Regions from separate parts of the Homo sapiens genome. Here all the other regions are linked to region 3. A link means that fine-mapping ties the variant in region 3 to the plasma level of a protein whose gene starts in the linked region. Region 3 holds a variant in brackets. A gene starts in each other region. All regions are shown on their forward strands.

Evidence for each region. PIP is the chance, under the fine-mapping model, that this variant and not a neighbour inherited with it causes the effect. Protein levels are from antibody-based Olink assays in UK Biobank. Linkage for the fine-mapping came from a reference panel and not from the study's own genotypes, which makes the PIPs less certain.
Region 1: it holds the start of OMD, and the variant in region 3 is fine-mapped to the plasma level of the OMD protein (UK Biobank, PIP above 0.99).
Region 2: AMBP starts here. The variant in region 3 is fine-mapped to the plasma level of the AMBP protein (UK Biobank, PIP above 0.99).
Region 4: it holds the start of CRNN, and the variant in region 3 is fine-mapped to the plasma level of the CRNN protein (UK Biobank, PIP above 0.99).
Region 5: IL27 starts here. The variant in region 3 is fine-mapped to the plasma level of the IL27 protein (UK Biobank, PIP above 0.99).
Region 6: EBI3 starts here. The variant in region 3 is fine-mapped to the plasma level of the EBI3 protein (UK Biobank, PIP above 0.99).
Region 7: it holds the start of TNFRSF11B, and the variant in region 3 is fine-mapped to the plasma level of the TNFRSF11B protein (UK Biobank, PIP above 0.99).

Annotation. Positions count from the first base shown.
Region 1 is chr9:92,422,679-92,426,678 of GRCh38, forward strand. It overlaps OMD (osteomodulin), which reads right to left and starts at 1,793. Exons shown (of 3, transcript NM_005014.3): 1 at 1,524-1,793. All of the region lies in intron 5 of CENPP (centromere protein P), which reads left to right.
Region 2 is chr9:114,076,054-114,080,537 of GRCh38, forward strand. AMBP (alpha-1-microglobulin/bikunin precursor) reads right to left here and starts at 2,247. Exons shown (of 10, transcript NM_001633.4): 1 at 2,040-2,247; 2 at 545-687. The coding sequence starts at 2,156. LOC107987120 (a long non-coding RNA gene) reads right to left here. Exons shown (of 3, transcript XR_001746905.1): 3 at 3,887-4,484.
Region 3 is chr17:28,395,195-28,399,499 of GRCh38, forward strand. It overlaps SARM1 (sterile alpha and TIR motif containing 1), which reads left to right. Exons shown (of 9, transcript NM_015077.4): 8 at 711-832; 9 at 963-4,305. The coding sequence ends at 1,092. SLC46A1 (solute carrier family 46 member 1) reads right to left here. Exons shown (of 5, transcript NM_080669.6): 5 at 1-4,305. Among named protein-coding and RNA genes, the nearest start is that of SLC46A1, 8.9 kb to the right of the region's middle. RefSeq lists enhancers at 487-1,170, 1,854-2,537, 3,302-3,391. The variant G/A (reference allele first, on the strand shown) is at 3,055.
Region 4 is chr1:152,411,856-152,416,339 of GRCh38, forward strand. It overlaps CRNN (cornulin), which reads right to left and starts at 2,408. Exons shown (of 3, transcript NM_016190.3): 1 at 2,359-2,408; 2 at 241-391. The coding sequence starts at 378.
Region 5 is chr16:28,503,225-28,507,224 of GRCh38, forward strand. IL27 (interleukin 27) reads right to left here and starts at 3,610. Exons shown (of 5, transcript NM_145659.3): 1 at 3,557-3,610; 2 at 654-826; 3 at 471-569. The coding sequence starts at 3,587.
Region 6 is chr19:4,227,016-4,231,450 of GRCh38, forward strand. EBI3 (Epstein-Barr virus induced 3) reads left to right here and starts at 2,508. Exons shown (of 5, transcript NM_005755.3): 1 at 2,508-2,602; 2 at 4,176-4,308. The coding sequence starts at 2,536. RefSeq lists enhancers at 2,728-2,817, 3,781-4,282.
Region 7 is chr8:118,948,500-118,952,499 of GRCh38, forward strand. It overlaps TNFRSF11B (TNF receptor superfamily member 11b), which reads right to left and starts at 3,386. Exons shown (of 5, transcript NM_002546.4): 1 at 3,293-3,386. The coding sequence starts at 3,322. It also overlaps a transcript of COLEC10 not described here.

The sequences.
Region 1 (4,000 bases), not on the chromosome of region 3:
CTTTGATTAAGTGCAGTTTTCTGTTTTGAAATCCATCCTGTTTTCATCTATATGCTCATTATTTTCTATGCCTCTTGCTCTTTCCCCAGGATAATTTCCCCTGTTACAACAATCTCTTATTTTATCCAAATTTTTCATTCCCCAACTAATCTCTTCTGAGTCATTTGCTAAGCATATTTTTGTTACTTCTGCTTTTCATACTCTACAATGTATGCCTTGTTCTCTATAGGATAACTCACAGCAATATTGTATAATTCATTGTTGATCATCTCATTTCCTAATATCTTTTAACAGAATCTAATACAATGCAGTGTTATAAGTGCTCAAAGGTGTGTTGAATGAATAAGTTAATAAGTTATAGGTTAAGGCTTGCTAGCAAATGCTTCTCTCTACTAATGTTGATTATTCCTAGGCATTTATTTCACTATGATAATTTCTTCAAATGAACATATTCATGAGAGCTTGACTGTTCCTTTTTCTATTGAATATTTCTTCATCACAATATACTGTATTCCTCACTTTCCTAGTACATCGTGTAGCAGGAAAAGAACAAATGTGAAAAAGAATGTTTGGAGCAAAGTAATATATATATATTACCAGTTTTCAATGTGAATTTTTCATATTATAGCAATAAAACCATCTGTGTCATAATATTTCTCTTACTTGGAGAAAAGCACTCGTGTTCATCAAGAAAAGTTTCAATTGAAATTACTAATGAGGTATAATTTACTTGTTCAGGAAAAGTTTAAAGTAAAATCCTCAACATTTTATTATGTTAAAGACATAATTGTTTTTATTTGTATGACATAGAAACTAGCATATAAGAAAGCAAATATTAGCATATAATTTAGATTTTTCCAAAAAAGTTCTAAATTTTAATTTTATAAAATTTTTTTGCTATTAAAAATACAATTACCTCAATTATTTTTAGCCATAATACATTTAAATCGTAATTAACTAAAACCCAAAGTAACTAGATCCTTCAATAGACTAGATAGAGCATCTGTATTTTCCCTTTGAGAAAGAAGTAAATGAAAAGAAAAACATTCTATATCAGGGATTTAGTCAGTAGAGAAATTTGGAGAAAATCTTGAGTGAAATTTGTACAAATGCCCATCAACCCCCCAACCGGAATCACTAGCATTGCTCAGCTGTATGCCTCAAAGGCATTAGCTGGTTCTTTGTTACTTATAATTCATAGAAAAAAAGAGACCTAAGGAAGAGAAAGAGATTGATTCCTTTAACCTGAGAATCTTTCCTTTCATTCAAAGTAAAAAAAAATCTAAACAAAGATTTTTTATTGGGTAAATCTTAAATGAGAAAGTTAAACTCATTATACTACTTTATTTGAACATTTTGCCTAATCAAAAGTTTAACATAACTTTTTTACCAGATTTTGCTTCCAAAAATTGTGCTTTTGTAATAGATGCAGTCTATTTTAATATTAAAAAATCCAATATACTTTTAAATTTTAACAGTAGGAATACATTCTTAAAAAATTGAAAATTATTTTATTATCATACCTGTTCAATTTGCTTTAGTTTTCAGGGGTTGATGAATTTGTAAATCCTTTAAATGAATCAGAAATTCCTAAATTCTTTAACTGAGTCTCTTAAAAATCCACAGTAACTCTGTGTCCAGACAGGGCTGTCTCTTGAATTACTGTAGCAATTTAAGCAAATACAATCTTCTTGGAAAACACTCGGGTTGAATTAAAATTATGTATTTCTTTTCATTACATGAAACTTTGTGGATTCAAATTAAGATGCTTGTGTTCTTGGTCAGATTTATGTGGCTTACTTCTTTCTTTTCCCCTTAATTTTGGTTTGAGGTGTGGCAAGAATTTCCTCTAATGTGAAAGGCAAACAAAACTAAATGAAACAGCATGTACTGATTACTGTTTTTATTTTCATTTTCATGCCAAAGAATTCTTCAAATTAAGGCCCACTGTGACAGGGAACTCCAGAGTCTCAGCAACTTAAGGTGGAACTCAAAATTTCTTTTTTAATTTTTTGAGATGGAGTCTTGCTTTGCTGCCCAGGCCAGAGTATAGTGGTGCAACCTCGGCTCACCACAACCTCCACCTCCCGGGTTCAAGCAATTCTCCTGTCTCAGCCTCCCAAGTAGCTGGGATTACAGGCATGAGCCACCATGCCTGGCTAATTTCTTGTATTTTTAGTAGAGATGGGGTTTCACCATGTTGGCCAGGCTGGTCTTGAACTCCTGACCTCAGGTGATCCTCCCGCCTCCACCTCCCAAATTGCTGGGATTACAGGCATGAGCCACCACGCCTGGCCTGGAACTCAAAATTTCTTGAGTCCCTTGGTTATTCAACACCTAGGTTCATATCAGTACTTCTATTTGTTAAAACAAGAAATCAGGATTAGAAACATAACATTTCGCATTGTTTATTTTTAAAATGCACTTGATTGTCATTGCTTACACAGATTAACTATACGACTTTTCTATACAAAGGCTTACATCTTCATTTTTATCATCATTTTTATCAGCTATCTCATTTCTCCTCTTTTTGGCAGATGTACCCACTAGAATGACTTCTAATATCCTTTCAGATAAAATTAGTCAGTTGGTTGCACTCCAAAGGTGTATCTTCAATTTGCCTGTTTTTACTATTGCACAAAATAATTCTGTAGTATTGAATAAAATGGGATGAAAAGCTTATGTTACTCAATAGCTATTGCCTTTATTTTGTAGATTTAGAAAATTTCTTCATTTCATAGAGCTATCTCTCCTGAATAGTAACAGTTAACTGTTTTTAATGTTTAATTTTTACACTGTTCTCATATTCTAAACAGAGAGTTGACTTGTGTCTTTTGGCAGTAGATTCGGAGTTCATTTTGGGGGGGAATTCTTTTAAGCTTTTACAAACTAATAAGATAAAGTGAATCCTGGAGTTCATTTTGTTTCCTCAAAAAAGTGTTTTCCATTAGCTTTTTACAAAGAACTCACAAGATTTATTTTGTTAAACTTTGCATTAAGAAAAGTATACAGTGTTTCAAGTGATGCTTTGGCAGTTGTAAAAATCTAGTCTATTATTTGAGACATTGGTATGAAAAACGTGGCAGACCACACTTTAGCCAAGATTCCATCTTGTTACTGATCTTTTCCATATGTTTTCTGTTAGTGTCTTTGTTCTTAAAACTCAGGCTTTCACTAAGGAAGAGAGAGCAAATCTGTGTACTTTTTCAAAAAATTGTTTTATAGGCCTTCACAGTCCTTTTGGAAGATTAACTGAAAATCAACAGCCTAATGTTTATATAACTTCTCATTAACTCTGTGATTTGGATTTATGATATTGATTATGTTATTCATGTTTTTAACAAGTGTGAAAGAAAAATCAGTAGATAACTAGAGCAGACAGAATAAAAATGTCTAGAAAATTTAAACTGATTGGCAGTGTCTATCTAGGAGGTTTAAGGTGGCAAGGGATGGGGATGGGGGGAGGTGGTGGTAGTTAGAGTCAGGCCTTAAAGGAAAAAATAGGGGATGTGAGTTTGTAATAGTTCACTGTTTTAGTTAAGTGGTTATAATTGTAGCAATTGGGGAGAAAAGGAGTTGAATTGTTGAAAAGTGTAAATTATATGCTATGATTATACTTTGATTGAAATAGATTCAGTATCTCAAAGCTGAGTGACACAGGACTGGCTAGGAAAGGCCCTCCTGAGACCTGCTTAATTAACATAATAAGCATTACAATTTTCTGCTCATTTGTTCCACTTTATTCACTGGACACCTACTTTGTGCAGATTTTAGATGCTTGGGACTCAGCAGTGAAAGTCTCTGTTATAGAGAAGGAAAACAGAAAATAAACATAAATAAGCATAAAATGCAGAATATAAACAATGTAGAGTGCGATGGAAGAGAATAATGCAAGGTAAAGGGATAAAAATGAATGAGGCATGGGGGTACGGGTCAACAGTTCAGGCACCGCTGTATGTGGGGACTGGAATGGAACAATTAAGTTACTGTATGGCAGATG
Region 2 (4,484 bases), not on the chromosome of region 3:
TCATGGAAGGGTCTCGAGCAGATGTGAGTTTTCAAAAGGTCTTTCTGGTTACTGGGTGAAGAGGGGATGGGGTGGAAGGGTGGAGGTCAGAGGTGAGGAAAGAGTAGAGAGGTTGTGGCAGACAACCAGGAAAGAAAGGGAGGTGGCTTGGACCAGGATGGTGGCAGTGGAGAGGGGAGAAGTGAACAGGTTGGGGGGGATTTAGGAGGAGAATGGGCAGGACTTGATGATGGGTGACAGGGGAGAGAGGAGCCCAGTTCCCAGGTTGGGTCCCTGGGGGGCTGAAGTACCCACACTGGGCTAAGGAATGCCCAAGGGGGAGGAGCAGTTTGCAGAACAGGCACAGTGCTGGGACACTGCCCTCGAGGAATAGATAGGACACCTGAAAAGGGCCGTCCTGGTGGAGGAGCGTAGAGGGATCTGGGGTTCAGCGGGAAGGTCCTGACTGGAAGCAGAGATCTGCAACTTCCCAGGATGGACGGGGCTGGGAAGGTTGTGGGTCTCTGGGTCTCTCTCAGCTTTCCAGCCCCACCCTAGTGCTCACCGCCAACGAGTGCTGGTCATGCTGATCTCCGCCTCTGTAGCGCCCTCTCCCAGCACCAGCGTGCTCACTGTCATCCTGTCCATGATCTTCTTCAGCCAGGGGCAGGTGGAACCGATGGCCAGGTTGTACCACTTCCCATAGATCTAGGAGGCAGGTGAGCTCTGGGGGTCTGCATCAGTCTCAGACCTCAAAGCAGACCTGGCTGACATCTGCTCCCCACCCTCCACCTCCTCCTCTTCCTCCTCCTTCTCCTCAAAATGACTTATCCTTTTAAGGGATAATGTCTTACAACTAATCAGAGGCCACACACCTTCAAGGGAGGCCAGATCCCTAAGAGTGGCGTTTCAGGCATCACAGCGAACCCAGGAAGCAGGTGTGCGGCTGGGGTCCCAACCTGCCCTGCAGAAGGGCTAACTCTCTCAAGATGTGGGATCTGTCCATAGCTCCATCAACCACTGCTCCCCAAGAGCTGGAGTCCTGTCTTTTACTCCTCCAATGATGGGGTGCTCCCCACCTTGCAAGGCAGCCCACAGCCCCATGTTAGGAATTATTTCAAAAGTATAATGAACATGATGGGGTCATTCAGGATAGGCCTGCTTCCTCTTCCTCCTGAAAGTGCACGGGACAGCTGAAGGAGCCCTCAGGCTCCTACGGAACAGGCCAATGTGCCCCACACCCTTTGCGTCCCAGACTGCCACAGGGACCTGCTCCTCATTGCCCCTCTGCCACGACCTTTCCTTGTCCCTAAAAGTAAACAAAACCCACATGACACCACAGCTAGAAGGTTCTGAGACCCTTCATACAGACATGGAGACAGCCCCAGGTGGGCAAGGGTATTCTCAAAGCCACCCCGGGATTTAGGGCAGAGTGGGGGCTGGAAGGCAGCTCTGGCACTCCACACTCACAGGAGAGTGTCCTGCCCCAGTCCAGGTCTCTCCTTGTGCCCAAGCCTCTGAATGTCTCCCAACCCTAATCTCTGTCCTGCTTCACCTCTTCCCATAAGCCCCACATGCCCAACCCAAAAGCTGCTGGCCACATGCCCACGCTGTGCCACCCCAGGTGTCTGTCCACAGTCAGGCCAGGATGTGGGCAGGGGACACAGGAAGAGCTAAGGGAAAGATGCCACAGAGAGAGGGGAGTCATTAGAGAAGGAAGGGCTGGGAGGTCTGGGCAAAGCTAGGTGTCTGCACGGGGGCTGCAGGGCAGTGGCAGGCAGGACAAAGCCTTCTCTGGAGCAGGTTCCCATTAACACAAGGGTTCCCCTTGGAGCCCACGAGGACAGTGCAGAAGGTGAGGATGTTTGACTCATAGAATGTCAGCCAAGAGACCCACGGAATGGCAGGGGATAGAGCTGTACCTTCAAAGGATCCCATAATCCCAGATGATCTGAGTGGAAGCCTGAGACCCCGAGACAGGCCGCACTTGCCCAGCAGGGCCCATCTGCCTGGACTCCCCATCACCACATCCACCCTACCACAGAGAGCGGCAGCCTTACCCGAGAGATATTGAAGTTTTCCTGCACTTGGATGTTGTCGGGCGGCGTTGGCACAGGGCCAGCGCTCACCGCCAGGCAGGCGCTCAGCAGCAAGAGCAGGGCCCCGAGGCTCCTCATGGCTATGGGCTCCTCTGCCTTGGTATATCCCACAGGCTCGGTCTAGCAACAGAAGGGCCACCGCCTCCCTGCAACAGGGCAGCTGTGAACTGAGGCTGGGGAAGGGGCCTGTGGCTTGTAGTTGACCTCAGTGTTTGCCCTGCTCAGCTGGGGCCAATTACAGCCCCAAGGACAGCTCCAATCGATCCCTGTAGCCTGGCTGGGGTCAGCAGTACCAAGAGGCCGGGATGGCTGCTTCAGAAGAGGCATTGGCCAAGCACAATAGGGCCCTGGAGCACCAGGATTGGGCTCCGCCCCCCAAAAGTCCCCCACAGAGGGCATGCGAGGATGGGGAGCGACCTGGCCTTTCTGCTGAGTCATGCCATCTGGACCTCACAGCTCTGTGAGCCAGCAGGTCAAGCCTGATTGGGCCCATTTCTCACAGGAAAAAACTGAGGCCCAAGGAGAGGAAGTGACTTGCCAGAGACCTCAGGGAAGTCTATGGGCAGAGCCAAGACCAGAACCCAGGTATCCTGTCTCCAGAGTTCCTTCTCCAGCCCCCAGGCTTGCCCTAGCCTTTGCAAATAATAGAGACATTAACAATGATGACTGTTACGAGCTTCCGTTCACTGAGCACCTGCTATGTGCTGGCTGTGTACCAGGCACTTTACACGTGCCACAGGTGTCCAGTAAATCCCCACAACAAGCTTACGAAGTAGGTGCTATTTGTCCCCTTTACAGGCAGAGGAGTTGAGTCTCCAAGAAGTGAAGTGACTTGCCCAGAATCCCTCAGCCGGGAGTGGAGTAGCTGGGAAAGGCGTGGTAGAGACCATGGACGTGGGAGCCAGGCAGCCTACAGTGGCACTCACTGCTGTGTGACCTTGGGCAAGTCACTTTACCTTTCAGTGCCTTGGTTTCCTCATCTGTAAATGGGGATAATAATAGTTCCTAGCTCCTAGCATTGTTGAGTGAGCACCTGCAATGCGCTAGGACAGTACCCAGCATAGAGTAAGAGCTGAGTGTTTGTGGTGGGTTGAACAGTGCCCCCTCCAGAATCCATGTGCACCCCGAACCGCAGAATGAACCTGATTTGCAGATGTGATTAGTTAGATGAGGTTGAACTGGATGACAGGGGTTTTAAATCCAATGACCGGTATCTTTATAAGAGAATGGTGAGGGAGACTCAGACACAGGGACACAGAGAGAAGCACGGGGAAGATGTGGCGTGACGCCGAAGGCAGAGATGGGAGGGATGCAGTGACACGTCAAAAATCACCAAGGATTGATGGCAGCCACCAAAAGCTAGCAAAAGGCAAGGAAGGACTTTTCCCCAGAATCTTCAAAGGGAACATGGCTCTGCTGAAAATTTGGTCTCAGGTGTCTGACCTCCAGTGCTGAGAGAAGACACATTTCCTAGCAGCCCTAGGAAACTAATACAGTAGTTATTAAACTTAAGGTTTTATTTATTTATTTATTATTTTGAGACGGAGTTTCACTCTTGTCGCCCAGGCTGGAGTGCAGTGGTGCGATCTCGGCTCACTGCAACCTCCACATTCTGGGCTGAAGTGATTCTTGTGCCTCAGCCTCCCGAGTAGCTGAGATTACAGGTGCCCACCACCATGCCTGGCTAATTTTTGTATTTTTAGTAGAGACAGCGTTTCACCATATTGGCCAGACTGGTCTCTAACTCCTGACCTCAGGTGATCCTCTCACCTCAGCCTCCCAAAGTGCTGGGATTACAGGCGTAAGCCACTGCGCTCAGCCTAAATTTAAGATTTTAAATGAGAATTTTTTAAAACCCAGGTCCGTTGTCTGTGAGCTCACACTCTTGCCAGCAATACCAAAGGCCTCTCTATGAATTTCCCTTCTCCAGTGGTTAAATCTACTGTCCTTACTTCCTCCCTGCTCTTGGCATGGAACATTCCATACTCTCAGCCACCTCTCTGTTAGAGCTGGGAATGACCCCTTCGGGCAGGCAGTCCCAAGATTAAGACCCCTGCTTATGTGAGAATCAAAGGATTCCCCCATGTAGTCAGTGCAGAAACAAATGGTGTATCATGTCCCTTCTGTAAGATTCAGTCAGTACATCCCTCTTTCACTGGTATCCAGAACAAGTGTGCTTCTATTCATAAATGTGTTTCCTTTGCTCCGTCACCCTAACCTTGGCCAGTGATTATATTCCCTTCTTGCTTTGGCTGCTAGGAAGCTCAAAGCCATGATGTAAGTTTAAGCACAGTTACTGTCTTGGTTTAGCTTTCTGGGACAGTTATCTTCGTGTTCCTTGTGTTCACAAAGTTTCTCAATCTTTGATGTTTTAGTTAATGATGGTAATGAGGAGGTGGTAGCCCC
Region 3 (4,305 bases):
TGATCCTCCTGCCTCAGCCTCCCAAAGTGTTGGGATTACAGGCGTGACCCACCATGCCCAGCTGAATTATTTAATTTCACAGTTATAAAGGACACAGCTCAAGAATAGCCAAATGGAAGAGATACATAGGATCTCTACGTATGGAGGGTGGAGGTGTGGATGCCATGCCTTCTACCACCTTCCCAGCACCTACACCTGTTTATCAACCTGGAGGCTCTTCAAAACCCCTTGTTTGGGGGTTTTTATGGAGGTTCCATTATGTAGGCATGATTGATTAAATCATTGGCCATTGGTGATTGAACTCAATCTCCAGCACCTCTCTGGAGGCTGGGAGGTGGGGCTGAAAGTTCCAATCCTCTAGTCATGCCCTGGTCTCCCTGGTGACCAGCCCTCTTCCTGAAACTATCTAGGCTACCCCCATAGCACCCCCCGGGCCCCCAGTGGGGAATCATCTCTTTAGCATACAAAGACACTCATCACTCAAGAGATTCCAAGGGTTTTAGCAGCTCTGTGCCAGGAACTCTGGGCAAAGGAAAAATATTTATTTTTTATTACACTACAAGGGTTAAGGTAGACATCAAGGTGGACATCAGGACTGGTGTCCTGCCCTGGGCCCAGCCTCGGGCCAGTGGGCCTCCCAGCACCTGCCTGGCTACAAGGGTCCCTAGATGGGTACAGGGGTATCTTCCTCCTTTCCTTTCTTTCTCCAGGAGATTGTGACTGCTTTAAGCTGCGGCAAGAACATTGTGCCCATCATTGATGGCTTCGAGTGGCCTGAGCCCCAGGTCCTGCCTGAGGACATGCAGGCTGTGCTTACTTTCAACGGTATCAAGTGAGCCCCAGGGCCCTGGGACCAGGGGGGTAGGGTACAAATCACCATGACAGGCAGAGTGTGGGCAAACAGCTGACTAGCAGCTCCCTCTGCCCAGCTGTCTGAACCACATTGGCTCCTGTGCCCACAGGTGGTCCCACGAATACCAGGAGGCCACCATTGAGAAGATCATCCGCTTCCTGCAGGGCCGCTCCTCCCGGGACTCATCTGCAGGCTCTGACACCAGTTTGGAGGGTGCTGCACCCATGGGTCCAACCTAACCAGTCCCCAGTTCCCCAGCCCTGCTGTGACTTCCATTTCCATCGTCCTTTCTGAAGGAACAGCTCCTGAAACCAGTCTCCCTGGGCTGAGACAACCTGGGCTCTTCTTAGGAAATGGCTCTCCCTCCCCCTGTCCCCCACCCTCATGGCCCACCTCCAACCCACTTTCCTCAGTATCTGGAGAGGGAAGGGAAGTCAGGCTTGGGCACGGGAGGTTAGAACTCCCCCAGGCCCTGCCATTGGGTTGTCTGTCTCCGTCATGGGGAGGGTCCCTGCTCAGTTCTGGAGACACTGGAGTTGGGGTGGGGGTGGTTCTGCATTCCCTTCTCCTGCTGATAGCAGTCAGCTTGAGGAGGATGACGGAAGGCAGCCTCAGACAGGAATTAAGGCAATGCCCAGGCGGGCCTGGGCACTGTATTCTGAGCAAGGGCCTGGGCCCAGGAGCCAGCCAGGGATGAGTGCCATCATGGCTCTCCACTCAGACTGTGCCTGGCCCCTGCACTTACAACTTCCTGCCGCTCTGTGGCCTTGCCCTGTAATCACTCAGTGCCCTTAGCTAGCCTGACTAAGTCCCAGATCCCCTACAGCTTCCTTCGGTGTGGTATCTTTTGCCACATCCAGGGCGAGGGTTGAGGCAAACCAGCCCTCCCTCTGACTTCCTTGTCACTGCAGCCAGCTTTGCTGCACTTGCTGGTGCACAGGAGCCTCCTGTTTGGGCCTGGGTCTGGGCATGGGGAGGCCGTGCCTCAAAGCCCACCCTACCCCATGCCTTGGTGCTGTGCCTCAGGCTCCTTCCTGGTCTGGCCCAGCTGGCTTCCCCAGCCCCTCAGCCATCCAGGGCTACCCACTGCTTACTCAGGGACCAGGCAGCCCCCATGGCAGTAAAAGCAGCCTAGACAGAACCTGCAGCTCTGTGGAAAGAGGCAAAGTCCTGAAAAGGCAAAGGGTTGTCACTTAGGGCAGCTTCTCCAACTTTAACATGCATCCAAGTCACCTGGGAATGTTGTTAAAATCAGGAGATCTGGGGTGGGGCCTAGGACTCTGCATTTCTTACAGATTCCCAGGTGAGCTGATGCTGGTGGTTAAGGGTAGCAAATCTCTAAAGCACGAAGCCCTCACAAATCTTTGCCATTTCCCAAACACTCCGCTCCATGGTCTCCAGTCATCAGAGCAACTCTACCTGGTATTATCATCCCCATTTTACAGATAATGACACTGAGGCTCAGAAAGGTTGAGGATAAGCCCACTTTCCTGTCATTAGTGGCAGCCCCAGATCCAGACCTAGGCCTCCTGGCACCCAGTCCACTGGCAGTGGAATTGCTTTCCTGAGAATCATTCTGAGGCTGGGCTATTGCTTCTCCCTTGCTTCAAAGAATCTAGCAGCGGGGGATAGGATTTTGCAACAAAAAGCTGACCCAGAGGCCATACAGAGCAGGAATATCCCATTGCCCCCTCCTCCACTGGGTTCAGAGGGTAAGAAAGCACCCTCCAATAAACCCAGGCTCCAGGCCGTGGGGGCTGCTGAAGGCTCTTTCCCCGCAAGGGCCAGGTGTTGACACCTTAAAGCTGGCTGCGCCCCCAGCCCCACTCTTGGCTGTGCTGGCCAGGTGACTCCTAGTTCTTGGCCACATCATCAGAAAGTCAAAGGTCTCACTCCAGGTTTGGGGCTCCTTCCTTCCACTCCCCTCCCTGCCAGAGTCTGTCTTGGCCAGTGCCAGCCTCGATGCTTTGGTTTTGACCCCACCTGATCCTCCTTTCCTCATGCAGCACAAGTGCTCACCGGGGCCAGAGCCAGGGCATGGATATGACAAGCAGGGCAGCCTGGACACTGCCCTCACAGGACAGCGCCAATAACAATACAGTGTCTGAGTATCTCCAGGGGATGATTTCTGGCTCTTTGTCTCCAATCAGTCCCACTCCCTCCTGAGGTCCCCAAGGGCAGTATTCAGAGAGGTTTCCTGC[G/A]TTTTATTTCTATTTGGTATACCCTCCACTGTTGTCCACTGCCCTGTGTGGCCTTCTGGTTGACCTCTGCCCGATCTTCTGTCTCTCTGAGGGAATCAGAGTCCAGCATCCAGCCCCAGCTGGAACAGCTGAAGTCACAAGCCTCCTCTAAGCCAAGGCCAGTGTGTTCAGAGGTGACTGCCACCCATACTAGGACAAACACAGCTCAGATCACCAGGTCAAGCACCTAGGCCTGGCTTCTCCTGAGACAGAGGACTCAGAAGTGGCCTTTCCTCCAAAGCCTGCTCAGACACAGGTCTGTAGGGCCAGGGTGTTCTGCTTGGCTGGGCTGCAGCTGCTACCCCTCGGTTGGGGCTGAGTCAGCCAGATCCTCCCCCTACTTCTCCCCAAGGGCCAAGAACTGCTCAGGGACATTAAAGGTCAAAAGTCCAGCCACACTCATTCATCCTTTCCCCAGGCCCATGAAGAGAGGCATCTCATTGTAGAATGTATGAGGAAGTGGGAAGTATCTCAGAGAATCAGCTAAGTTTCCTAACTTGTCCATCCAAATGTGATCACCACGATTCAACAATTTGGGGCATTGCTGATCTAGCCGTTCCTAGTGGGGCTTGCTCAAGGTTGCACAGCGAGTCAGTAGAAGCCCTGGCTGGCCCCACTTGGTACCAATCCACCAGGCAGCTCAGGGCTCCTGCCCAGCCCAGCAGCTTCTGTTGTCTAACGTATGGCAGGCAGACTGGGAGCAGGAAAACAGAGGGCCCCAAAGCCCAAGGCACCAGAAGGTTTGTTTCAGTTTGCTGAAGCTGATTTGTAATGATTGGCACTCTTCAGCCAGGGGAGTGGGTAGGCCATAGCCAAGGATCGATTCCCCAACCACAGCAAAGGCAACACTCTTCCTCCAGAGATCACCAAGCCCCTCTTACCTCCCTCCCTCCTTCCCAAGGCTGGCACTAACCAGGTACCACATTCATTGTTAAGGAATGGCTGATGACTGCTACACGTGTTGGGAACCTGGTTGGGGCTGTGCAGTTTGGGCTGGAAGGAGAGATGCCAGCCCTCGTGCTGCCTCTGGTCCCTGAAGTGTCACCTCTCTCAGGACCTCTCCTCTGGCCTGTGGGGTTATAAGTGATGGATAGCAGAAAGGGAGAACTGACTCCTGTCCCAAATAGCTCCTCTGCCACCTGTCCTGCAGTGGGCCTGTGTGGGTTATGATTCTAGATCCTAGACAGAGGCTGGGTCAGCTGTGGATGGGGT
Region 4 (4,484 bases), not on the chromosome of region 3:
CTTGTCTTTAAGTTAGAATTAATTAAAACCAAGGTTTTAATCTAAAGAGCCAGGACTTGCCAACTCCCATGACCATCTCTGGTTCTTTCACCTTTTTTTCTGCCTGCACAGCTGCCATCTGTCCCGGCAGGCCTGGGTTTAGCTGCTGCCTCCTCAAATTCCCCAGGCAAGGCCTCTGCAGGCAAACCAGGTTTCACTCTCCTGCTATGTCCCCTCTCCACCCGGCTCAGCACACCGTACCACAATCACATCGGCAAACTCTTGCTCCAAGAGTCTTTTCAGCTCCCCTCGGGTGAGCGCTGTGCAGTTGCCCTCCGTCCTTGCATAGCGCCTGAAGGCCTCGATGATCCCATTAATGTTTTGCAGTAACTGAGGCATCTTTGAAGTCAACCTGGAAAAGATGAAAAGTTCCCTTGGAGGCTCCATAATCAACCTCAGCTATTTCCTTTATAGCACGTCTGCTGCTAGGTCTTTCCTTGCACGTTCAGCTCTGTTTTTAGTTTTCCTTTGTCCTTTCCTACATAATGCATCTTATGTATGGGAAGGAGGAGCACACAGGATGGAGGCAGGTTCCTGAGTCAGGATTAAATGCTGGCCCCACCACTTAAGTATGGTGTGAGCTGGGACAAGTTGCTTTGCCTCTCCATGCCTCAGTTTACTACTCATTGTAATTGAAGGTGATATTAGTACTCTGTGGGATTATTGTGAAGATTTAAAGACATAATTCATAAAAAGCACTTGGCAGATGCCTGGCTTATATTAAGTGCTCCTTATTAAATATAATTATTATGCTATTATATACATATACACACATATAATTTTTGTACACCTATATAATCACTTTCCTGTACATCATCTCTTCTAATCCTTATTATTTCCACTTTTTTTTATAGGTGAGGAAACAGGCTCAGAGAAGTTAGGCCACACAATTTTTAAGGAGCCAAGAAATCCTAGGATCCATTTTTCCTTAACCCAAATGCAATGGGCTTTCTAGAATGTACCCTGTGGACAGGATTTATTTATTTATCACAAGGGTGTTAGGGTCCCATCGGGAACACCAAAAGGAAGTAAATACATCTGTGAGTCAACCCCTGTCTTGGATGGGAGCCAAGCAGAAATTCCAGGGACACAGCCCTCCCTTCTTGTTTTTTTTGGGAAAGTGGGAAGAAACTGGGCTACCACCTGCTGGGAATGCTCAGGAGGGGGGAACCTTCTTTGGGTGGGAGGCCTTCCAGTTCTGAGGGTCCAAGTTTCTCTGCATGTCGCCTCTGTCCACAGCCCTGAGACTTATCAGAGAAGTCAGCTTGCCCAACAGGCACGTGGCTCCATCAGGCCCAGATTTCTGGTGACCTATGAGTTGGTTCCTAATCAAAGGGAAAGCTTTTCTTTTTCATTAGCCAGAAATCTAGAGGTAGGTTGAGGTGAGGCCTGGGTTTGGTTGCATGAGCAAAAGGAAAAGAGACTTGAAGATTCATTAAGCAGAAGCCTTGGAGAGACCCAAAGGAGGAGATGGTATCAAAGATGACAAGTCTCAAATGCAAGGGGAGATGGAGCCTGTAGCAGCTGGAAAGCCAGAGAGAGGATGGGACGAGGCAGATATAGGTAGGAGAAGAAAGAGAAAAAAGGAAGGAAGGAGACTTGAGTTCTAGAAAAAGCAGATTAGTGTGGCCATGAGGACTCAGTAAGTCATAGCAAAAGGTGGGCTGTTCAGGAGAAACCCTTTCTAGGACCTGGTAACCAACAATTTCAGGCAAACTTTTCATCAAGGTAAAAAACTGGGGATGTTTTCCTCAACATAGATGAAAAATATCTTTCTTTTTTTTTAAAACCATGTAGCAGACTTTAACCACTGACCTTTAGATAATAAAATAATAAGATGACCTTTTAGTTACATTTTAGATTCCTTAGAAAAATCTACACATATTTTGCCTAAATATCACCCTGGTGTAGGAGAGGGGAATCATGTAAACCCCTTCATCCATGACACAGTTTGATCTTATTGTCTAGGTTGGCATAAGTAAACTGATTCTGATCCCATAGACTCTCAGCACTGCAAAGAAGCTTCCAGAGCCTTAGAAAAAAGAAACCTTTGCTGATCCAGGAAGGCACATGGGTGGCCCCATAGCCGCTGCCCACACAGTTTCCCAGTGAGAGGAGCTGCTCCCAGGCCAGCCTCAGGGAGGAGGAGAAAGCCTGATTGCTTCAGGAGAGCATGTTTCCCAACGGTAGCGTTGGTTTGCCCAGTGCTCACAGCTAGCTCTGAAGGATGCATAGTCCATACCTGACTGCCCCAGTTTTATGAGCTCAGATCACCAAGACACTGAGAATGAGAAAGAGGTTTCTTATGAGGGGACTTACCTAATGCCCAGGTGGGATGAAACAAGTGGCTGTTAAGTGGTGTGAGGAGTACCAGGTCAGTGTGATGAGAACCTTTTATAGGGGTTTTAACCAAGGCTCTTGTTTTAGACAGGATATCCTGCCCTATGGGAAGGCTTGATTCATCCAAGATCCAGCCCAGCCCAGCCACACCTCCTCTTGTCTCTGTTTTACCTGCTGATGTGTGACTGCCTTGGTCTAATTAACAGGCCCCTCCTACCACATTTGGTACCTTCTGTAGCTGAGTCCTCTTGACAGGGAAGCTTCTTTCCATTGTGATGGGCTCAGCAGTGCTTGGTACAGGCTGGGGTCCTGGTGAACATTCTTTGTCTCTATGAGCCTACAAAGTTATGGGACTCTTTCCTTTTTTTTTTTTTTTTTTTTTTGAGATGGAGTCCTGCTCTGTCGCCCAGGCTGGAGTGCAGTGGTGCGATCTTGGCTCACTGCAACCTCCGCCTCCTGGGTTCAAGCAATTCCCTGCCTCAGACTCCTGAGTAGCTGGGATTACAGGTGCCTGCCACCATGCCCAGTTAATTTTTGTATTTTTAGTAGAGACAGGGTTTCACCATGTTGAACAGGCTGATCTTGAACTCCTGACCTCATGATTCACCTGCCTCTGCCTCCCAAAGTGCTGGGATTATAGGTGTGAGCCACCGTGCCTGGCCACTGTTTCCTTTTTTAATATAAATGTTCAAGAATATATCTATTGAGGTTAACTTTTACAAAGTAGCCACTCTGAGAGGGCACACATGTTTTTGTGGTGATGTTACTTAGAACTGTTATTACTTAGAACATTTTTTGAATTCTTGTTTTGTAAGTGCCTTTCACACCTAGTGTATGAGACACAAGAAAGCCAGTTTCATCTCTTTAAAGTTGGTCTCATTTTTAATTAAAACAAAAAAAGTTAATACCTTCCCCACCCCATGCTATGGGTAGGTAGCATTTTGTAGCTGATGAGAAAAAAGGCTTACCATGATCATGTGGTAACTCCTCATTGCAAGGACAGGAAACTCAACTGGTGGCTAATCAGCAAATATTTATGGAAAGCTTGCTCCATTTCAGGCAGAGGGCTAAGGCCCTAGGAATACAGTGTTGAATACGATGGCAGCAGTTTCAACTCTCATGAAGTCTATAGCCTGGCCATCCCAGGGGTAAGTCCCCAAGAGGTTAATGATAATGGTATTGCCATTTCATTTCATTTGATTTTATTCCATTTTCATTACCATCTCATCTTATTTGATCTCCCTAGCAATCCTCTGAGGTGGTATGGCTAAGCCCAATTCATAAATGAGAACACTGAGAAATCCTCAGAGAAGTAGCCACTCTGTGAAGCGGAGACGGTGCTGGACTAGAGCCCCTCAGACTCCAGGCCTGTGTTCTCTCTGTTGCACCATGCTGCCATTTATTCTTCTCTCATTGAGTTTTGGCACCTTATGAACATCACACTTATCCTCAATGCATGAAGAACCATTCCTGAGGAGGAAGTTTTCTGAGCTCAGAAGCCAAGTCCCAAAGAGTGCTCTTGAGTGGCACTTTGCAGATAATATATACTGTGTAGCTTCCTGAGTGACTCTGGAAGGGAAAGCCATCTTTACCATCCTCACTTATAGATCAGCATGCAACAGACAGGAAAGGGAACAACAGGATAGGAAGGCATGGTAAGGGCCTTGGTTGAAGAGACTGGTGTATTGAGGGCAGCCCTGTAGCAACAGCACAGCCTCCAGCACTTCCCCTCAGGGCACAGAGCACTGGGGAGTTCCAGACTGCAGGAGGGCAGGATGCAGGCTTTGTGTTTGGAGAGATCTGTCTACATGGGGACAGGTTGGCTCCAGTCCTGGGGTGAAGGTGGGGTAGGCATACCAGCCAGGGAAAAGCAGAGTAGGGGCTTCAACCTTTGGGAGCAAGAGGGGGCTGAGGTTGCTTCTGCCTGATCAGAGTTAGAAGAAGGCCAGTATGAGAGGGTGAAGTTGGAGAACAAGAGGGAGAGCCGATTAGACCTTCTTCTGTGGTGGTGTTTGAAGCTTTTTCTGATGGGGCTTAGAACTTCCAGAAAGGTTTGGGAACTGAGGGTAAGTTAGGGAAGTAACAAGCCAGAGGCTGTATCTAGA
Region 5 (4,000 bases), not on the chromosome of region 3:
TGGGATTACAGGCATGAGCCACCACGCCTGGCAGTTTATTTATTTTTCTGAGACAGGGTTTCCCTCTGTTCTCCATCCTGGAGTCCAGGATCATAACTCACTGCAGCCTCCAACTCCTGAGCTCAAGCAATCCTCCCATGTCAGCCTCCTGAGTAGCTGGGACCAAAGGTGTACACCACCATGCCTGGCTAACTCTTAAATTTTTTTTTGTAGAGACAAAGTTTCACTATGTTGCCCAGACTGGTCTTGAACTCCTGGCCTCAAGCAGTCCTTCCACCTGGGCCTCCCAAAGTGCTGGGTTTATAGGTGTAAGTCACCATGCCTGTCTTTCATCTCTATGTCCAATGACATATTCAGCCTTATCCAGGTTCTATCCCCAATGCATCTCCAGCTCAATCTCCAGCCTCATCTTGCACCCTGGCCCCAGCCTATCACAAGCTTCCCGCCCCACTCCACCAGCCCTCACTCACAGAGAGGCGGCGCCAGGCCTGGAAGGTCAGGGAAACATCAGGGAGCTGCTCTCCCAGGGGCAGGAGGTACAGGTTCACTCCTGGCAGGTGAGATTCCGCCTGGGGGGCAAGGTCTGTTAGTGGGGGCCAGAAGGGATTGGGGGTCTGCCCATCTCCAGCGCCAGCTGCATTAGGGGGACTTACAAAGCGGTGGGCCTGGCCCCGAACCTCGGAGAGCAGCTTCCTGGCGAGATGCAGGCTGACTGTGAACTCCCTCCGCAGCTCCTGCAGGCTCAGCTGGGGCCTCCCTGGGGGCCTTGGGAATCCCCAGACACCAGCTTGAACCAGGAGCAAGGGAAGCAGCAACAGGCTGAGCCCTGGAGAGATGGGAAGAGGGTGGCAAGACAGGGAGAGAGCTTGAGAAGGAAGGGAACATGCCTTTTCTGAGCCTGTGCTAGCTGTGAGCACGGTGCAGGCACTTTGACCAGCATCATTCCTCTGCCTCCTCAAAACCACAATGGAGGCTGGGTGCGGTGACTCACACCTGTAATCCCAACAATTTAGGAGACCGAGGCGGGCGGATCACCTGAGGCCAGGAGTTCAAGACCAGCCTGGCCAACATGGCGAAACCCTGTCTCTACTAAAAATACAAAAATTAGTTGGGCGTGGTGGTGCATGCCTGTAATCCCAGCTACTCAGGAGGTTGAGGCAGGAGAATCGCTTGAACCTGGGAGGCAGAGGCTGCAGTGAGCTAACACCACTGTGCTCCAGCCTGGGCGACAGAGCCAGACTCTGTCTCAAAAAAACAAAACAAAACAAAACAAAACAAAACCCCACGATGCAGCCAGCACGGCCCCCATATGGCATCTCCGCATGGTGTGCCCACTTTTGCAAAAAGACCAGAAGCCTGATCCTTTTTTTTTTTTTTTGAAACAGAGTTCTGTTCTATCACCCAGCCTGGAGTGTAGTGGTGTGATCACAGCTCACTGTAGCCTTGAACTCCTAGGCTCAAGTGATCCTCTCGCCTCAGCCTCCCAAGTAGCTGGGATCACAGGGACACACCACTGTGCCTAACTGTTTCTATTTTTTTGTAGAGACAGGGTCTCACTATGTTGCCCAGGCTGGTCTTGAACTCCTGGCCTCAAGAGATCTTCCCGCCTCAGCCTCCCAAATTGCTGGGATCACAGGCATGAGCCACTGTGCCGGGACAGAGACTGGATTTTGACCCCCATAAACTCCCTTGGCCAAATGCCTTTTTCAGTGAGCAACCTGCACAACCACGTGTGGCAGCCTCAGTGCTATTGTTCTCCCCAATTTGCAGGTGAGGCTCAGTGAGGTTGACTTGCCCAAGGTCAAATAGCCAGAAGGTGGGAAGCCAGGACTGGATTCCAGGTTTTTCCAAATGCAGAGCCCATGGGTTTTCCCCAGAGAATGCAGAGGGAGGCAGCCATCTGCCCCAGGAGTGGGCACACCATGTTCTGGCAAGGATTCTTTGGGCTCAGCCAAGCGGCTCTGATGGCTTGAACTGGCCATGAGGTCCCCAGGGATGGGCTGGCAATGCCAGAGGCTCTATTCCAGGGAGTCAAAAGGACAGGTTTGTCCAGTTTCCACCACGGCAGGTGGATCCTAGCAGGGTAACCTGCCTGGGGCGAATCCACAGTATGGGAGCTTTTTTTTTTTTAAGACAGATTCTCACTCTGTCACCCAGGCTGCAGTGCAGTGGCGCGATCTCGACTCACTGCAACCTTCACCTCCCAGGTTAAAGCAATTCTCCTGCCTCAGCCTCCTGAGTAGCCACCACGCCTGGCTAATTTTTATTATATTTAGTAGAGAGGGGTTTTGCCGTGTTGGCCAGGCTGGTCTCCAACTCCTGACCTCAGGTGATCCGCCTGCCTTGGCCTCCCAAAGTGCTGGGATTACAGACATCAGCCACTGCGCCCAGCCCAGAATGGCTGAATTCCGAGTGTGCTTCCTGACCTGTGTTTTCCTGGAAAGAGGGGCAGCGGATGGGCGCTCTAGGAAGAGGGCAGCATTCATCAATTTCCCCCTCAGGGAGAGGAAATCTAGCAAGCACAAGAGTTACACAATTCTCCTCGAAACACAAACCAAAACTGGCCCGAAGTCCATCCTGCTCTCCCTTCTCTCCCTGCCTCTTCCCTGTCCTCTCTCAATCTCTAACCCCTGGGCTCTGCTCTTCGAAATGTCCCCTGATAAAGGTGAAGGGGAGCTTCTAGGGACATCTACCTCCCTCGTGGGCTTGCAGATGTGGTGGGCGATGCCTAACGTAAGATCTCTGGCATTCAGACTCCCTGGTTTTGGGGCCACTCGGACCCTCTGACATCCTGGAGACTTAAGGCAGAGTGGGGTTCTTCCTAGCTCAATGTTGGGGACAGGGTGGGTGCCCCCAGGCCCTGGTGGATCAAGCCCAACCGTAAGTGAGCTGTGCCATCTCCAACCTGACCTCTGGAGACCCCAGACCCCCTCCTTACCCTCTGCAGCTGATCCTGGGTCATTGGCTCTGGCCTTTGAAGGCTCTGTCTCCATCCTCCAGCCTTTGGTCCCTACCTGCCCTACGTGGCATGTTACCTTCTCCACTGCCTACTGCTCTGGTTCTAGCCCCTGAGTTCTGCAGCCACCAGCCGCAGATTGGACCTCTTTCCAACATCAAACTAAAGACCTTTGACCCAGTGAGGCTGCTGACATCTTGGTCCCAGTGCTCCACTTGTGCCAGCACCTCGTTCTGCTCTTCCTCCAGCCGGCCCCATTCTCAGTCTTAGCCAAGCTGTTTGGCTTCTGCTTATTCACTCCAAACTCTTCATTTATCTGCCTAGACCTGGTCCTTGTCAAATTGCTGGTCCAACCCTCCCCATTCCCACTAGCCAAGGCCTCCTTCTCATCCTCTGCCCAGCCCTGGGTCAGACCACCACCCCACTGCCCCAGGCCCCCACCCAGTCATGCCAGCCTCCCTTCCCATGCAGCAGCCAGCCGAATCCTCAGTCTTGGCCAAGTTGCTGCTCTCAGCTCTCGACCCCCCATCTGCACCAGCCAAGCTCGTCCATTCTCTGCCCAAACTCAACCAAGCCCCCCACCCCTGGCTTCAAACTCACGCCAGCCAAGGTCGCCTGCCGTCTGGCCCATGGCGGGGCCCAGCCTCTTTGGTCAGCCATCTCCTGGGTAGGGGGGGTCTTATACTGGGGGCTGTGCCCGGTTTCACTTTCCGTCCTGCTTGTACTTTCAGCTTTGTGTTCACTCATTCTTCCCTCTCGCCACCCCTTGCTAAAATGGGGAAATGTAATTTCCCTTCCCGGAGGGGGTGGGAGGTATGATGGGGGGTGACGGGAAGCTGGGGTTTCGGGACATCCAAGCTCCAGACTCACTGCTAAGCTCCCACGTCCAGCCCTGTCCTCAATGTCCCATGCTTGGGTGAGCCATCCAGCCCTATTCACTGGTTGATCCCAGAGTCCCAAACCCCCTCCTGATTCTCGGCTCTGCCACCATCATCCTAGGGTCTACTGTCCTTCCAAAGATGGATAGCCAGGTAAGGGGATTGC
Region 6 (4,435 bases), not on the chromosome of region 3:
CCTTTTTTTTTTTTTTTTTTTTTGACACAGAGTCTCACTCTATCTCCCAGGCTGGAGTGCAGTGGCGTGACCTCGGCTCACTGCAACCTCCTCTCACTGCAACCTCCGCCTCCCAGGTTTAAGCGATTCTCCCACCTCAGCGTCCCAAGTAGCTGGGATTACAGGTGCGCACCACAACGCCCAGCTAATTCTTGTATTTTTAGTAGAGACGGGGTTTCACCATATTGGCCAGGCTGGTCTCGAACTTCTGACCTTGTGACCCGCCCGCCTCAGCCTCCCAAAGTGCTGGGATTAGAGGCGTGAGCCACCACACCCGGCCCTCTGTCGTCTTCTCTTATCTCTCTGTCTCTCTTTCTGTGTCTGTCATCTCCCCGTATCTCTATTTCTGTCTTCCTGTCTTCTTTCTGTCTCTCTTTTGTCTCTCTTTCTCCATCTCTGTCATTGCCCCATCAGTCTTTTTGTTGTTGTTGTTGTTCTTTTTGAGATGGAGTCTCACTCTGTCACCCAGGCTGGAGTGCAGTGGTGTAATCTTGGTTCACTGCAACCTCTGCCTCCCAGGTTTAAGTGATTCTCCTTCCTCAGCCTCCAGAGTAGCTGGGATTACAGGTGCCTGCCACCACGCCCAGCTAATTTTTGTATTTTTAGTAGAGACAGGGTTTCACCATTTTGGTCAGGCTGGTCTCGAACTCCCAACCTCAGGTGATCCATCTGCCTTGGCCTCCCAAGGTGCTGGGATTACAGCCGTGAGCCACCGTGCCCCACCATCTCTCTATCTCTGTCTATCCTACTCTCTCATCTCTGTCTCTCTGTCTCTGTCTCTCATCTTCCCATCTGTGTCTCTCTTTCTCTGTCTTCCTCCCTTATCTCTGTCTCTGTGTCTCTCTCATTTCCCTATCTCTGTCTTCCTCTCTTATCTCTGTCCCTCTGTCTCTCTTCCTCTGTCTGTCTGCTCTCTGTGTTTCTCTTTCTGTTTCCATCATCTCCCTGTCTCTCTCTGTCTCTGTGTCCTCCTCCTCTCATCTCTGTCTCTGTCTCTCTCATTCCCCTGTCTCTCTCTGTCTCTATCATCTCCCTATCTATCTCTGTGTCCTCCTCCTCTCATCTCTGTCTCTCTCTGTGTTTCTGTCTCTGTCATCCCCCTTTCTCTGTCTCTGTCATCTCCCTGTCTCTCTATCTCTGTGTCCTCCTCCTCTCGTCTCTGTCTCTCTGCCTCTCTCATCTGTATCTCTCTCTGTCTCTGTCATCTCCCTGTCTCTGTCTCTCTCTATCTCTGTGTCCTCCTCTCATTTGTCTCTCTGCCTCTCTCATCTGTATCTCTGTCACTTTCTCTGTCATCTCCCTGTCTCTCTATCCCTCTATCTCTGTGTCCTCCTCTCATCTGTCTCTCTGCCTCTCTCATCTGTAGCTCTCTCTGTCTCTGTCATCTCCCTGTCTCTCTATCCCTCTATCTCTGTGTCCTCCTCTCATCTGTCTCTCTGACTCTCTCATCTTTGTCTCTGTCTCTGTCTCTGTCATCTCCCTGTCTATCTCCGTGTCCTCCTCCTCTCATCTCTGCCTTTCTCATCTCTGTGTCTCTCTCTGTGTTTCTGTCTCTGTCATGCCCCTTTCTCTGTCTGTCATCTCCCTGTCTCTATCTATCTCTGTGTCCTCCTCCTCTCATCTCTGTCTCTCTCATCTGTATCTCTCTCTGTCTCTGTCGTCTCCCTGTCTCTCTATCTCTTTGTCCTCTTCCTCTTGTCTTTCTCTCTGCCTCTCTCATCTGTGTCTCTCTCTGTCTCTGTCTCTGTCATCTCCCTGTCTCTGTCTCTCTCTCTCTGTGTCCTCCTCCTCTCGTCTCTTTCTCTCTGCCTCTTTCATCTGTGTCTCTGTGTCTCTCTGTCATCTCCCTGTCTATCTCTGTGTCCTCCTCCTCTCGTCTCTGTCTCTCTGCCTCTTTCATCTGTGTCTCTCTGTCTCTGTCTCTGTCATCTCCCTGTCTCTGTATCCCTCTATCTCTGTGTCCTCCTCTTCTTGTCTCTGTCTCTCTGCCTCTCTCATCTGTGTCTCTCTCTGTGTCTCTGTCTCTGTCATCTCCCTGTCTCTCTGTGTCTTCCTTCTGTCTTCTCTGTCTCTCTGCCTCTCTCCCCCATCTCTGCCTCTGTCTCCCTCCATGTCCCTGAGCCCCTGCCTGCCTGCCTGGGGTTTCCCCCGCTTCAGGGCAGCGGAAGGAAGGCCAGCAGGACATGCTGTGCTGGGAAAAGCCAGCAGGTCTCCACTTCTCCCTTTCACAGCCTCCTCCCCCGCCCCCACCCTCGGGGCCTTCCGAGCAGGGGTGGCCTGTGCTCCCCAGGGGGCTGGGGCTCCTCCACACCCTAATTCATCTCCCTAGCGGCCCCACGAGCCCCACCAGTGAGTCAGACCTGAAGGAAGTCGGGGAGGGGGCGGGCCTTGACCCTGGGCTGGGCTTTCCCCTGGGCAGGTCCCAAGTCCTCACCTCCCCTCTCAAGTCTCCCACGACGTTCCCACCCACTCCTGAGAGCAGAGCTGGCCGCAGCCATGACCCCGCAGCTTCTCCTGGCCCTTGTCCTCTGGGCCAGCTGCCCGCCCTGCAGTGGAAGGAAAGGTATGTGGGGCCCCTGGGGGACTGGGGGGCCCAGGCAGACGGACATGACACGAGGACTGGCCTCGGATCATGTCTGGGGTGGGAAATCACATCCTCCCGTGCCCAATGGTGGGATGGGGTTACCCTCCCATTGTACAGATGGAGGAACTGAGGCACAGAGAGGCAGAGTGCCACATTGGGGGTGGAAGGATGTCACCTTGTGGGTGATAGGGACTGGCAGTCACAGCTCAGAGGTATCCATAGAGCTACACAGACATAGCTACACAGACATGCGAATTTGAGTCACACTCATTCCTTTGGTTTCTTTTTGGTTTTGTTTTTTGAGACAGAGTCTCACTCTGTCGCCCAGGCTGGAGTACAGTGGCACCATCTCAGCTCACTGAAACCTCCATCTCCTGGGTTCAAGCGAGATTCTCCTCCCTCAGCCTCCCGAGTAGTTGGGATTACAGGTGCCCGCCACCATGCCCGGCTACTTTTTATATTTTTAGTAGAGATAGGGTTTTACCATGTTGGCCAGGGTGGTCTTGAACTCCTGACCTCAGGTGATCCACCCACCTCGGGCTCCCAAAGTGCTGGGATGACAGATGTGAGCCACCGCGCCCGGCCGACATTCATTCATTTTGCACTAGAGAACATCTCCATGTCCTTGAAGACAAAATGGTTACAGCAGGGCATGGTGGCTCATGCCTGTAATTCCAGCACTTTGGGAGGCCAGGGCGTGAGGATCGTGAGGCCAGGAATTCGAGACCAGCCTGGGCAACATAGTGAAACCGGACCCCACCAATCTGTACAAAAAATTAAAAAATTAGCTAGATGTGGTGGCACGTGCCTGTAGTCCCAGCTACTTGGGAGGCTGAGGTGGGAGGATAATTTGAGCCCAGGAATTGGAGGCTGCAGTGAGCTATGATTGTGCCACTGCATTCCAGCCTAGGTGACAGAGTGGGATACCTTGTCTCAAAATAATAATAATAATAATAATTTATAGGCTGGGTTTGGTGGCTCACGCCTGTAATTCCAGCACTTTGGGAGGCCAAGGCAGGTGGATCACCTGAGGTCAGGAGTTTGAGACCAGCCTGGCCAACATGGTGAAACTCCCTCTCTACTAAAAATACAAAAATTAGCCAAGCGTGGCAGTACATGCCTGTAATCCCAGCTACTCGGGAGGCTAAGAATCGCTTGAACCCGGGAGGCGGGGGTGGCAGTGAGCCGAGATCTCGCCACTGCACTCCAGCCTAGGCGACAGAGGGAGACTCCCTCTTTAAAAAAAAAAAACAATTACAAAAGAGAGAACACGGTAAAATCTCTCTCTCTTACCCGAGTTCCTCTCTGTAGATGCTTAAACCTCAGCTTCCCTATCTGGAAAATGGGCTAGTAGTCCTCACCTAGATGGATTGCAGTGGGGATAAAAGATGACAGATGACTTTTGTCCATGTACCTATTTATTCCGAAAGCCTTTATTAGGCACCTACCATGTACCTGGTGCTGGCTGGCAACGTGGCAGGAGCCCAGCGCACGGGAGGGCTATGACAATCTGGGGGTAAACCAGAAGCTCACTCTTTCTGTCTTCCTCCAGGGCCCCCAGCAGCTCTGACACTGCCCCGGGTGCAATGCCGAGCCTCTCGGTACCCGATCGCCGTGGATTGCTCCTGGACCCTGCCGCCTGCTCCAAACTCCACCAGCCCCGTGTCCTTCATTGCCACGTACAGGTCGGAGAGCCTGGAAGGGGGCCTCAGGGACACTGGACTTCCTGGAGAGCCCAGAACTCTGGCCCTGAGAGCCCTGGGGTCAGGAAAACTGGAGACCCCGACATCCTGAACCCCAGGCCTATGGAAT
Region 7 (4,000 bases), not on the chromosome of region 3:
TTGATCAGCACTGCCATAGCTCTCCTTCTAGAACTAACCGGATAAACCATCTGGTGCAGAACGCTTACTTCCTCAATCAGTGGAATTTCACAGCTGTAGTTTCAGCTTAAGTAAAATTTGAAACTAGATTGAAATTAGAAATTGTGCTGGAGGTTGCTAGGTGACCCGGGCCAGGAACGTTGCTACGGACAGGGATCAGGACTGTTTTGGATTGAGGGTATGTCAGATTTTCCTAGAAACTTCAGAGTATTCATTCTCTTAAAACAAAACAACAAAAAAACAAACAAACAAACAAAAAAAAACTTAACCACTAGGGGGAGGGAGAGGAAACCAAAATAACAATAAAACAACAAAAAGCCCCCAAAGGCATTATTCTACAGGAAAACAGACAGACCAGACATTTTTCCTGAGAAAAAAATAAATCTACCCCTCCCTGCCCACTTCTCCACCCCAACTCCTAGTATCATAACATTAATTCAGAACTTAGCTTTGAGAAGTTCAATGGATGGTTCCGATACTACTTGATGGGAAGTTTCAGCCATCAGTTAAAACCTAAGCCTGAGTGAAGCAGAGCAGGCCTCTGCTTAACTGCATTAAGGAACATTCCAGGAAAGCCCATGTCTATGACATTAGTACTAATGACAACATCCCATCCCTACCTCCTTCCCTGCTTGCCTACCAGCATACCCTTTGCACTCACAAAAAGAATCTAGAATTCTATTTTGCTACACAATCTTGCCTTCTCTCACTTCTTTGGTCCAAGATGCCTGATTTTAAATCTCCAACAATGAAACGTCATACCCCTCCTCCAGGATGACGGTAGATGGCCATCTCTCCCTCCTCTGAGTATCATCAGCACTTCGTTTACATAATTCACTTGGATCTAGATTGTCCTAAAGTTAGTTATCTGTGAGCATCATGCTAGGAGCTAGTGTTGATATGAAGCAGAAACTTTATGTGGGCATCTTGGATATATGCATATCATTATTATCATTTTATAGAAGACAAAACTAAAACTCAAGAAGTAACTTGGCCACAGTCATTTCTCAGGTAAGTGGTGGTACTGGTATTTGATTTTTGGTCCACATGATAACACTGCACTAGCAGCTTCCCTTATAAGGTGCTATATGGCAGAATCTTTTATATTCCCAAGTCACCCAGTAGTTTCTTTCTTTGCAACTCTATATACACAATTACTTGCCCAATATCTGCTTTCTCCATTAGACTATGGGTCCATGGTGAAAGGAATAGTGTCTATCTTGCTTTTCACACTGTCCTGATGCCTAGTGCCAGTGGAATGCCCATTATAAAGAAATAAATATCTGTGGTGCTTCTAGTTCCTACAGTGGCACCTTGGTTTTACAAAAGGGCATCTGGACTCTATGTGTAAATACAAAGTGTCCATTTGCAATCATTTTCAAAATAAAGTAAGTCTCAGAAGCTAAAGAAAGGGGAAGCAAAATTCTTCCTATATAAAGTATTTACTGTGTTCAAGACATATACGAAGTCTTATCTTCTGATAATGCTGTATCATCTAAAATTAGTATTATCTACATGTTTGTCTATCTTCCTGTACAGACCACATATAAAAATATTTTACTATTTAAATTTATGGATACTTCTAAATAGAAACATATATTATTTAGTGGAAACCCTGAAATTTAACTCATTGCTAGTATGTTTGTTATTAATTAAATCTTTGACAAAATAAAAAGGGCTAGGAAGAATAAAAATGTCCCCATATTAACGGCAGCATTATTTATACTAGCCCAAAACTAGGATGATTAAATCAATTGTGGTGTGTCCATACAATGGAATACCATACAGCAATGACAACGGACAAATTATTCTATATCCTACAGTAGAGATGAATCTCACAACAGAACTTTCAGTGAAAGAAGTCAAATGCAAAAAATTGAATAAGTTCCATTTATAGGAAGTTCAAATACAAGCAAAATTCATCTATGTTGTTCAAATCAGAATACTGATTGTTCTGGCCATAGACACAGTAGTGATGGAAGCTCTTGAGGTGCCGATAATATATTTCTTGATCTGTGTGCTAGCTCACAAGTGCTCACTTAGAAAAACTGCATTAGGCACTTACCACTTGCACAATTCTCTATGTGTTATATTTTAATAAAGGTTTACTTTTTTAAAAGCACTCCATAGTATCTCTAGCGATGAAGTTATACACACACACACATACATACATATATATTTTAACATACTTATGGGTAGATTCCTATCCAACTTACCTGTTCTTTAGTGTCTTTACTATTTATTTACTTATTTATGTTTCTGTATCCTAGGAACTAAGTAGAAGACTACCTAGCCTTCTATTCATTATTTGTGGGTTGGAGGTTGAAGTTCAAACATTTACTCAAACACATCCAAAACACATATGTGGCTTAAATATGGCTTTTCCTAGCCTTGCATAAATGTCTGATTCATATCTTGATGTACTCTACACTCTAGTGTCATAGAGAAAATAAGTCATTGGTCATAGAAAAACCTACATGCAAATCTTATTAACTTGATCAAAACCTAAGCTTAAAAAAAAAGCTAAGTCACAGAGATTCCTTTCTTTTCCAAATAACATTTTAAACACAATTTTTAGCCCTATTTAGTGAACTTCAATTCTTTAGATATGTTTTAGAACATAACATACTGCCAATATTCTCCACAGTATATTGAAGTTGAGAAGTGAAATAATTTTAACAATAAAATTTTATTAAAACATTACACAGTTAAGAAGTGTGTGTGTGAGAGATCTTTTCTCCTAATTATTCAAAATTTCACATAATATTTACATTAGAAAAATCTATCATGTCATATTCTAATTATAATGGTTTTAAGAAGACTAACGTCTTCTTCCAACTTACTCTGAATCTAAGGGACCACTTCTTTGCCACTAATAATAAAAGTTCAAGTTCATTAAGCAAAGATAGTATGGACTACATGAGGGCGTTAATATTCTGAGATGAAGACAGAAGGTTAATGACTAAAACTTTCAAACAAGTTTCTCTCTCTCTCTCTCTCTCCCTCTCTCTCGCTGTCTGTCTCTCTCTTGCTGTCTTCCATAAAGTCAGCAGGAACTTTGCAGCGTAAAAGGACACCCTAGGGGAAGCATGGCATAACTTGAAAGCGGTTTCCTGCTCCAGCCTAACCCCAAGCCTCTCCTGGGAGGGAGCGAGTGGAGCCTTCTCCCCGCCGGTCCGCTGGGAGGTTGGGAGACCAGGTGGCAGCAGCCTCCCCAGGCGCCGGGCACCCGTCGGCTGGCCCAGGGACTTACCACGAGCGCGCAGCACAGCAAGTTGTTCATTGTGGTCCCCGGAAACCTCAGGGGCTTGGAGGCGGCGGCTGGGCGAGCGCTCCGGTGCGTCTCCGCAGCCCGTGCGCTCATCACGTTATATATAGCGTCCCGGCAACAGGAAGTATCGCCTGCCTTTGATCAGTCATTTTTCTATCCTGGACCAAACTTTGCACCTTTCTTTTTTAGGAAGCTTGGGCGGGAGCGGTCGGGGGGTGTGCAGAAAGCTCCAGGGTTAACGCTTTCAGGGCTGGGGCGGAAAGGATCCCCCAGGGAGGTGGGGCGTGAGGGGTGGGGCGGTGGTGTCTGGCCCCTGGGAGAGCAGGGGAAAAAAAAGCCACCGGGCTGAGGAACAAGGCGGCTGCTGTCTCCGCGGGGCTCTGAGGTTTCCCGGCCCCTTCCCGCCAGCGGCCAGCCTCCTGGCAGCCGGGACCAGCGGTGGGAGGGCTGGGCACACGCTGGGCAGCTGCTGTGCTTGTGTCTCCTCCACCCTGAGAGTCCGATCCAGCCAAGATCCGGACGCAGTTGGAGTGTGTCCCAGACCTTTGTCCTCTCGCTGGGCGAAAGCTGTGAGTTTCCGCCGTACCCGGCTGCCTGACCCCTTCACTTCGGGTTCTGAAACCTCAAATTACAGGGCCCCTCTTTATGCATGGCATTGTCTGAGCCCTTTTCGGGGAGTTCGCAATCATT